Linked DNA regions of Homo sapiens: region 2 is reported to be linked to region 1. The links are microRNA targets in miRTarBase. Many come from high-throughput screens and were not tested one by one. Region 1 holds a microRNA gene; the other region holds the end of a gene's coding sequence.
Evidence for each region. The annotated mature microRNA hsa-miR-6086 reads GGAGGUUGGGAAGGGCAGAG and lies in region 1 at 1,947-1,966, opposite strand. An mRNA with a match to its seed (bases 2 to 7 or 8) in the 3' UTR can be bound and repressed. Matches are read on the target gene's strand: a 7mer-m8 pairs with bases 2 to 8, a 7mer-A1 pairs with bases 2 to 7 and ends in A, and an 8mer does both.

Region 1 (4,148 bases):
TTAAATTCAGATGTTAGAAAAATAAATCTTTTTTTTTTTTTTTAAGCCCTGAAGACCTCTAGTTGTTCCCTGGAAACTGATTTCCAATGTGGTCCAGACAGGAAAGCCCAGCATAAATGCCAAATAGAACATAGGAGAAATGGTGAATAATACCCTTGCTATAAGGTTAAAGCTTCAGTAAGATGTTTTCAATTTACAGTAACTTTGGATCTGTGACTTCAACAGCCAATCGACAGCAAGGGAAATTCAGTTTGTGTTTAAAATGGCCTGAGATTGAAGCATGATTTAGACAAAGTAAAAGTCTTATTTGGTTCTCCCCCAAACTTCTCTATCTGAAGCTTTTCATCAGGTACTTGTTTATGGACAATTCTGTATTTCATCTCACTGAAGTGGCATACATTTTAAGGTTAATGATATCGAACTGATGAGACCCTGCCTTGGGAGGAGATTTAGACAGGGTAGAGGCTGAGAGCTAGAAGGCTCCAGGATACATAGAGGCAGGGCTTCAAAAGGAGTGAAGGGCAAATAGATGGACAGAGGGGAAGGCCTGGGTAGACTGTGACCTCACAGCCTGGGGTCTGGCTCTCCTTGTTGGGGCAGGTTGATGTGTATTCTTATTATCATGCATCCCACAACTCTGGCTTAGAAATCAGAAACCCAGCAATCAGGGAATAACTACCCTGTTATTTGGTGCTTCAAGAAACATGACTTTACCATCAAGAAGGACCATGCAAATTGGATAAAACATGATACACATTTTAGATCTAAAAATCATTGCAATTTAAGACCTGAACATTTGACTGGAGCAGTAGGTGTGCTGACCGTCTCTTCAGCTTGCAAAACTTGCATAGTGAGCATTTTGCTTGAACCCCCTGCACTTGCCCTTTTAACACCTTGCCTTCATTTATTCACCAGCGACATGCTGGGTCTCACAAGTTTTATGGCAGTAGACGCTGATGTTCGTGCAACTGTAAGAGAGACTCTAAATCATGTGTTTCACGTGGTTTTTGCCCCTTTCCACCTGACTGACTTCAAATAAAAATGTGTTATGTTGTGTCTAGCAAAAGAATAAAGCCACATTTAATCCCCCCATCACCTGGTGCTTTAATGACGAGAAGTCTGTGATGAGAATTATTGGTCCTTCCTGAAGGAATGGTAATTTATGAGGTATTTTCTATGCATGCCAGGTAATGAACTCACCCTTTAATGCATACATTCCTTACTCTCAGAGGTAGGTATTGCTCTCTCCAGGTTGCAGAGGAGGAAATTGAGCCTTAGCTAGCTTACCTTAGCTAGCTTGCCCAAGGTCACCCACGTCAGTCTGGTTCTCAATGCCCTTGATCATGACACTATCAATCCAATCAGGATGAGGACCCACCCTTTTAATTGACACAAGTCCCAGGAGGATATTCTAACTTCCTTTATCTAAGTGGGCAATGATGATCTTTGTTTTTGTCTAGTATTTTTATGCTCTTGTCATCTTGTCACAAGCAAACTATGATGGCAGAAGGTTTTGCATAATATGGAACATGTGGGAACGATATCAATGTTTTCTATTGTTTTATAGATTTTGGATATTATCAAGTTCTGACCCCACTTATGGTCAATCCAGATATTTTTTAACCAGCCAGAGAGAAGGAGGTTGGGGCAGGAACAGACTAGCAAAAAGAAGGTAGCATTGTTATTCCTAAAAATAGCTAACATGTTAGTGCTTTTATGGGACCTGCAACTGTGTTGTTATCCCATTTAATAGATAAATAACTTAGGATGAGGCACATGCTACCTACTGAAGGACACAGGGACAGTGAGAGTAGACTACTGCCCTGAAGGAATACACCCCTGGTGAGACAGTCAGGAGGAATGTGGATTTGGTTCTGCTACACTGCCAGTGTTGGTCGTTATGGAAAGTCATAAAAAGAAAAACAAGGCAAAAACTTTATGCTCATCTCTGCCCTTCCCAACCTCCTTGAAATGATCAGAGGCCTCTCTCGGAGTTCCTAACACATAGTCTGAGAAACAATGTCCAAGGCAAATTATGGTTCCTTGGTTTGCAATGTACAAAAAAATCAGCAAAATACTTAAAATCTTTGCATATATGCATATGTACCTTGAAAGCATTTAGAAATTGGCAGTATGAATTTTAAAAATGTGAGTTACAAATCTATAAGCTAAAAGGTGTACTTATTTTGTGGCTGAAGCCTACTGGTTGGGTGATTAATAATTAAAGTTTATTGCATTGGAAATCACTTAAATTATAATTAGAGGAGAAATTTACCAGCCTGCTTTTGCCCATCTTAGTTCCTTTAGATTAAAAAGAAAACCAAAAACAAACAACCCAGTCATACTCATTAAGATAATCACAAAAATAATTGACAAGACAGTCTTCTAAAATAAATCATGCCAAGTATGATGGCGTCAGCCACATTTTGTCTGGGAAGAGATCTCATAGGAACCCAGACCTTGGTTATTGGTAGTTATGCATGTCCTTGCCTGAGAGATCCACTGGCAATTTTGTGGCAGTTCATGGTATGACAGATAAAAACCTAAGGGCCCTGATCCAAGTGCAGGGTCTGAGTTTTTACAAAATTACCTTCACAGACTCCCTTGCTGTTTCTTCTCCAGCCGTAGCAGCAGGCCAGTTTAGTTCCATAGTGACAGACCCCAGGCTGACGTGCCGATGCTAACAACCCGTGATGCCTTGCACTGCAGATAAAGAACTACATGTTAGTATTGAGAAAATAGAAAAGACAACAGAAACTCTTCCCTACTACTAAAAGAACCAGAGATGTCAATTACCTGGTTAATTTCAACGAACCCGCAGTAAGTGCTAAATTAGATTTTGAAAACCTGAATTTTGGGGTTGCCAGCCTTCCTCAATAATTAGTTTCAACCATTTCCTTCTTCCCCACGGTTAAAAGAATCTATAAAACTAGGGCACATGAAGATGTCCAAAGTATATGTTTTTGAACCTTGTAGAGTGTCACTTTTCAGATCTGCTCTGTATACGCACAGCAACTATCCAGTTCTTTGTCTATTTCAGTCACTTTCTAATCCTGTGGCTTTGTCCCAGACCAGAGCTCTGCACTTTTATCCCACTGGCACCTGGGAACCATTGAATAGACTGGAATCAACATACACTATAGATGATTAAGAGTTGGAAGGGCTCGTTCAGCAAAGCCCTCTTATGTTACAGAGGAGGAAACTCCAGTCCAATGGAGTGGAGTCACATCCCCAGCAGAGCTGGGTGTTGGGAATTCTAGCCCAGGGCTCGTTCCCATTGACCTCCTGGAAACCCAATTTGCTAAACTGCTTAATTTTAGAGCAGAGATCGGCAAACATTTTCTGTAAAAAGCCAGATGGTAAGTATTTTAGGCTTTGTAGGGCCATAAGATATCTGTCCAAGTACAAAAGCAGCCATAGGCAATAGTAAACAGATGCGCATGACTGTGTTCCAATAAAACTTTATTTATGGACACTGTAATTTGAATAGCATATAATTTTCCTGTGTCATGATATGGTATTCTCCTTTTGCTCCATCTTCTAACATTTAAAAATGTAAAAACTGTTCTTCGCTCATGGGCTGTTTATAAAGAGGGGATCACCTAGCTTTGGCCAGCAGGCTGTAGCTTGCCTGATCTAGATGCCTGAAAAAGGTGAGCCCCCTGTCCCCCACCAAGTGCCCCCAAGTAGTGCCGCCATGGATGAAGCTCACTGCATGTTTACCTACTTACTGTCCTGGTATTGGACAGGGTTGCTACCAGACTTTGAAGGAAAATACTTGCATTGTATGTTTAGTGGAGGGCTGTGATTATTTCCTTACACATATTAAATACACTGTAAAAATGTTTCCTGGGCTCTTTAACAGACAAAGGAATGCACATTTTACCATGTGCTTTCTGCTACAGAACTGAACTTCATGCAAGTTAATAATATCTAAGTCAAGGTCGGGAAGTTAAACAACCTTGTAGATTTCCCTCAAGATCTGCCTCTCCCACAAATGTGATTACTCAGTTAAGAGCTATAAAGATATGGTCTGAGACATTTCATTTACTGAGAGCACCAAATGGGAGGATGATTTTAACATTTACTTTTTCTTGAAGAGAACTTTTTTTCATTTTTTAATGGAATTAATTTTAGGGATTCATAAG
Region 2 (4,000 bases), not on the chromosome of region 1:
CGGCCCTGCCTTGGACCCAGCCCCAGCCTCCGAGGCCATCTGGATATGGTAATGTGGTGTCCTTGTACCTGGGAGGGGAGCTGGAGAGGAGTGCGTGGGCCCGGGGCTGATGTCCCTCTGCCCAGGTTCCTAAGCACGTGCTGCCTGGGGAAGCCCATGGCACAGGGGCCAGGAGCCTGGCTTTGGACTCGGCTGCCTAGGCGTGGGTCCCAGCATCATCAGCTTTGAGCTGTGTGATCTCGGGCAAGTCACTTCATCCCTTTGACCCACAGTCTCCTCATCTGTAAAGTGGGGACAATAAAAATACCCGTCGCACAGGGATACGGCAGGATTGAATGAATAATACACGCTAAAGGTTTAGGGCCTGGGGCTGCTGCCTCTGTCTCTGTGCATGGTGTCAGGATGCCCAGCCCGAGGGTGGCGGGGGTGGATCTTGGGTTGGACTCAGCTGAACATCCCGAGTTCTCACCCTTCATTTTTCTTTCCCACCATGTCCCCTGTCACCTAGGTTTCCTTGGGTCTTCTCAGGACCGTAGTGCCTACCAGACGATTGACTCAGCAGAGGCGCCCGCAGATCCCTTTGCAGTCCCAGAGGGCAGGAGTCAAGATGCCCGAGGGTACTGAAGCCAGCCACGCTGCGCCCGGCCCTGCCCCGGGCCTTCCTCGTGCCTGGGAGGTCGTTCTAGGGATGCTCCTGACCTCCGTCTCTTGGACCTAAGATGGAATGTGTCCCCAGCTCAGGGATTGCCTGAACCAAGAGGCCAGGAGCCCCCATGGGCCGCCCAGTACCATGCACACTCCTGTCCCGAACTCCCTGAGGCCTCCCCTCCCTTCAGGGCACCCACTGGTTCCCAGGCTGGAACCAGGGTCTCTCTTTACCTCCTACCCCATGGTGGCACCACAGAGGCCCTCAGCCGAGTCCTGCCTGAGTGTTGCAAGCTCAGGCCTTTAAGGACTGCTGATGCCCCCTCAGGCCTCCCCCAAGTTTGCTGGGCTTTGGTGGAAGCCCTGAGAGCTTCAGGTCCTGCTCAGCCCGAGGAGCAGTCTGGCATGGGAGTGAGGCCCCGTCCTTCTCACTGCCTGGTCACATGGTGCCTAGGGATGCAGGGCTGGAGGCCAGAGGTGTCAGCAACACTGTGTCCCACCACAACCTCCAGCCTCCCTTTTCAGAGCACAGCATTAAAGTTTGGGGAATTCTGTAGATGGGCTGTGTTTTGAACCACCTTCAATCTCCTGGCTGGGCTGGGGCCTGGCCTTGTTCCTGGGAAGATGTCTCCTGCCAGTTCCCAGGTGGAGCCTGTGCTGTGCTGCCCCATTCTGTCATGGCAGGAGGAAACAGGCATGTGCGTTGGCTGAGCTGGGCTTGAGCCTGGCTCTGGCCTAGCAGAGGCCACAGGAGAGAGAGACACTGGTGGGTGTGGTGCGTGGGCATCCGTTTCTCTGAACCAGATGACCCAGGCACTCTTTGGAATCCTGCTCTGCCACTTACTAGCTGCATGCCTTCAGTGTCTTCTAGAAAGGGTTGGTGCCTGCTCCAGGTGTGAAGTGCCTGGCGTGAGGAGGGCTCCCTAAGTGATGGTGAACTTGTTAGCAGTGGACCTGCTCCTCAGGCCAGTGACGATGCTAGGTTAGGAGGCAGGGGCGACCTCTTCCTGGTAGCCCCTGTGTCTGGTCACAGCTGACTTGGGCTGACACGTCCAGAAGTTCCCCAGGGCCTCGGCCCACCCCACGGACAGGTCTAGCTATTCACAGCTTGCTCTTCTGCCCCCTGGGCACCAAGTGCCAGGGCTTTCCCAGGCCATCCTGGCTTGTCCCTGGCACAGGGTCAAGGCCTAGTGCACAACTCCCATTATTCTCTTGCGTCCATCTGTCAATCAAAAGAGGCTCAGTACCTGCCTGGTGCCGAGCGGGCTTGGGGCTGCAGTGGTGACCTTGGGAGCCTGCTCTCAACCTAGGAGTCTTCCCACCTGGAGGATTACAGACAGAGGCAAGAGCCCCGAAAGAAGAGGACATGGGCCTCTGGGTCAGGGAGGAAGGCTGCTGTGGGGAAGGGGCTGTGCTCCGGGCAGAGGGCTGCTGAGCAGCTGCAGTTGTGAGAAACTGGAAACAGCCTCACTGTCGGGAGACGGACCAGTAAGCCACGGTCCATTCATTACAGGGAGTATGGACCAGGAAGCCACAGTCTATTCATTGTAGGGAGTATGGACCAGGAAGCCACAGTCTATTCATTGTAGGGAGTATGGACCAGGAAGCCACAGTCCATTCATTGTAGGGAGTATGGACCAGTAAGCCACGGTCCATTCATTATAGGGAGTACGGACCAGTAAGCCACGGTCCATTCATCGTATGGAGCACAGTGCAGCAGTTACAGCTGTTAAACCAGACCTATTTCCACCAACGTTGGCCCCCCGCAAATGTGAACAAAGCAGATTGCAGAATGGCATTGGGATGAATTTTCAGACCTCACAGCAATGCCATATGTTGTTCCTGGGTGTATGTGCGGTAAAATAGAAAAGCATGGACTAGAAGGACACCTGTCAGGTTCATGACTGTAGCCACCCTGGGTGGAGGAGGAGCGTGACCCGAGGGGAATGGGACTAAGACCCAAGTCCGTTTATCTTGTGTATACAGCATCCTGGCCCCGGGAAGGCTTGTGTACCTGCGTCGTGAACGTGTCAGATTCCCAAAGGGAATGAAAAGCCAGGGCAGGGGCTTGGCCCAGGCAGTGGGGGCAGATGATGCAGCCTGGGCCACGCACAGGGGAGTGTATCTAGACACCTCAGTCCCTCATCGTCCCAGACCCCCAGGTTGAACCGGCTCTTTGCGGGAGAGGACAGAGGAAAGCTCCTGTCTCAGAGTGTACCCCAGAAGCAGAGCCTGCGATGAAAGCAAGGGTGCCAGGCTTTCCAGTCATTGGCTAGGAGCTGCTCAGGGAGTGGGAGAGGGTGGCTTAGATTTGCAGGCACTGTGCCACCCCCCGACTGTGCAGGCAGTCGGGAGCCGGAGGGCCATCAGAGGCAGACAGAAACGGTGGAGGAGGCAACCATGTGGCTGCCCCTTCCACACAGCGGCCTTAACAGGGAGAGCTTCTAACATACAACAAGCGCCCCAGAGCCCACTGTGAGTGAGGCCGTGTTCCAGAGGCAGGGGATGCCAGGGTGCGGGAAAAGTCACCCAGGGGCATTCCATTTAGCATGAGAGGTTCTTGGTGACAGCTAACAAGGCCTGAGGCAGAGAGTGGCTGAGCAGAGAGGGTGGGGGAGGGAGAGAAGAAGACAATGAGGTCAGAAGGTGGCTGGGGTCAGATGTGCAGGCTTAGCAAGTCATTCTGAGGACTCCAGTTCTGGCTGAATGAGATGGGAGCCCCTGGAGGGTGTTGGTCAGAGCCGGGCAAGGTCTGCCTTATATTCTTTTTTTTTTTGAGACGGAGTCTCCCTCTGTCGCCCAGGCTGGAGTGCAGTGACGCGATCTCAGCTCACCACAACCTCTGCCTCCCAGGTTCAAACAATTCTCCTGCCTCAGCTTCCTGAGTAGCTGGGATTACAGGCATGCGCCACCACGCCCAGCTAATTTTGTATTTTTAGTAGAGATGGGGTTTCTCCATGTTGGTCAGGATGGTCTTGATCTCCTGACCTTGTGATCCACCTGCCTCGGCCTCCCAAAGTGCTGGGATTACAGGCGTGAGCCACTGCGCCTGGCGTTTTGTTTTGTTTTGTTTTGTTTTGAGACAGAGTTTCGCTCTTGTTGCCCAGGCTGGCGTGCAATGGTGCAATCTTGGCTCACTGCAGCTGGGTTCAAGCGATTCTCCTGCCTCAGCCTTCCAAATAGCTGGGATAACAGGTGCCTACCAACATGCCCAGCTAATTTTTGTATTTTTAGTAGAGATGGGGTTCACCATGTTGGCCAGGCTGCTCTTGGACTCCTAGCCTCAAGTGATCTGCCCACCTTGGCTTCCCAAAGTGCTGGGATTACAGGCATAAGCCACTGCACCTGGCTTGCA

Region 2: the mRNA of AGTRAP is a reported target of hsa-miR-6086. Seed matches in the 3' UTR shown: 7mer-m8 at 1,148-1,154.

What each region holds. Positions count from the first base shown.
Region 1 is chrX:13,588,111-13,592,258 of GRCh38, reverse strand. MIR6086 (microRNA 6086) reads right to left here and starts at 1,967; the gene lies at 1,913-1,967. EGFL6 (EGF like domain multiple 6) reads right to left here. Exons shown (of 12, transcript NM_015507.4): 2 at 2,591-2,703.
Region 2 is chr1:11,749,569-11,753,568 of GRCh38, forward strand. It overlaps AGTRAP (angiotensin II receptor associated protein), which reads left to right. Exons shown (of 5, transcript NM_020350.5): 5 at 509-1,201. The coding sequence ends at 624. Among named protein-coding and RNA genes, the nearest start is that of C1orf167, 11 kb to the right of the region's middle.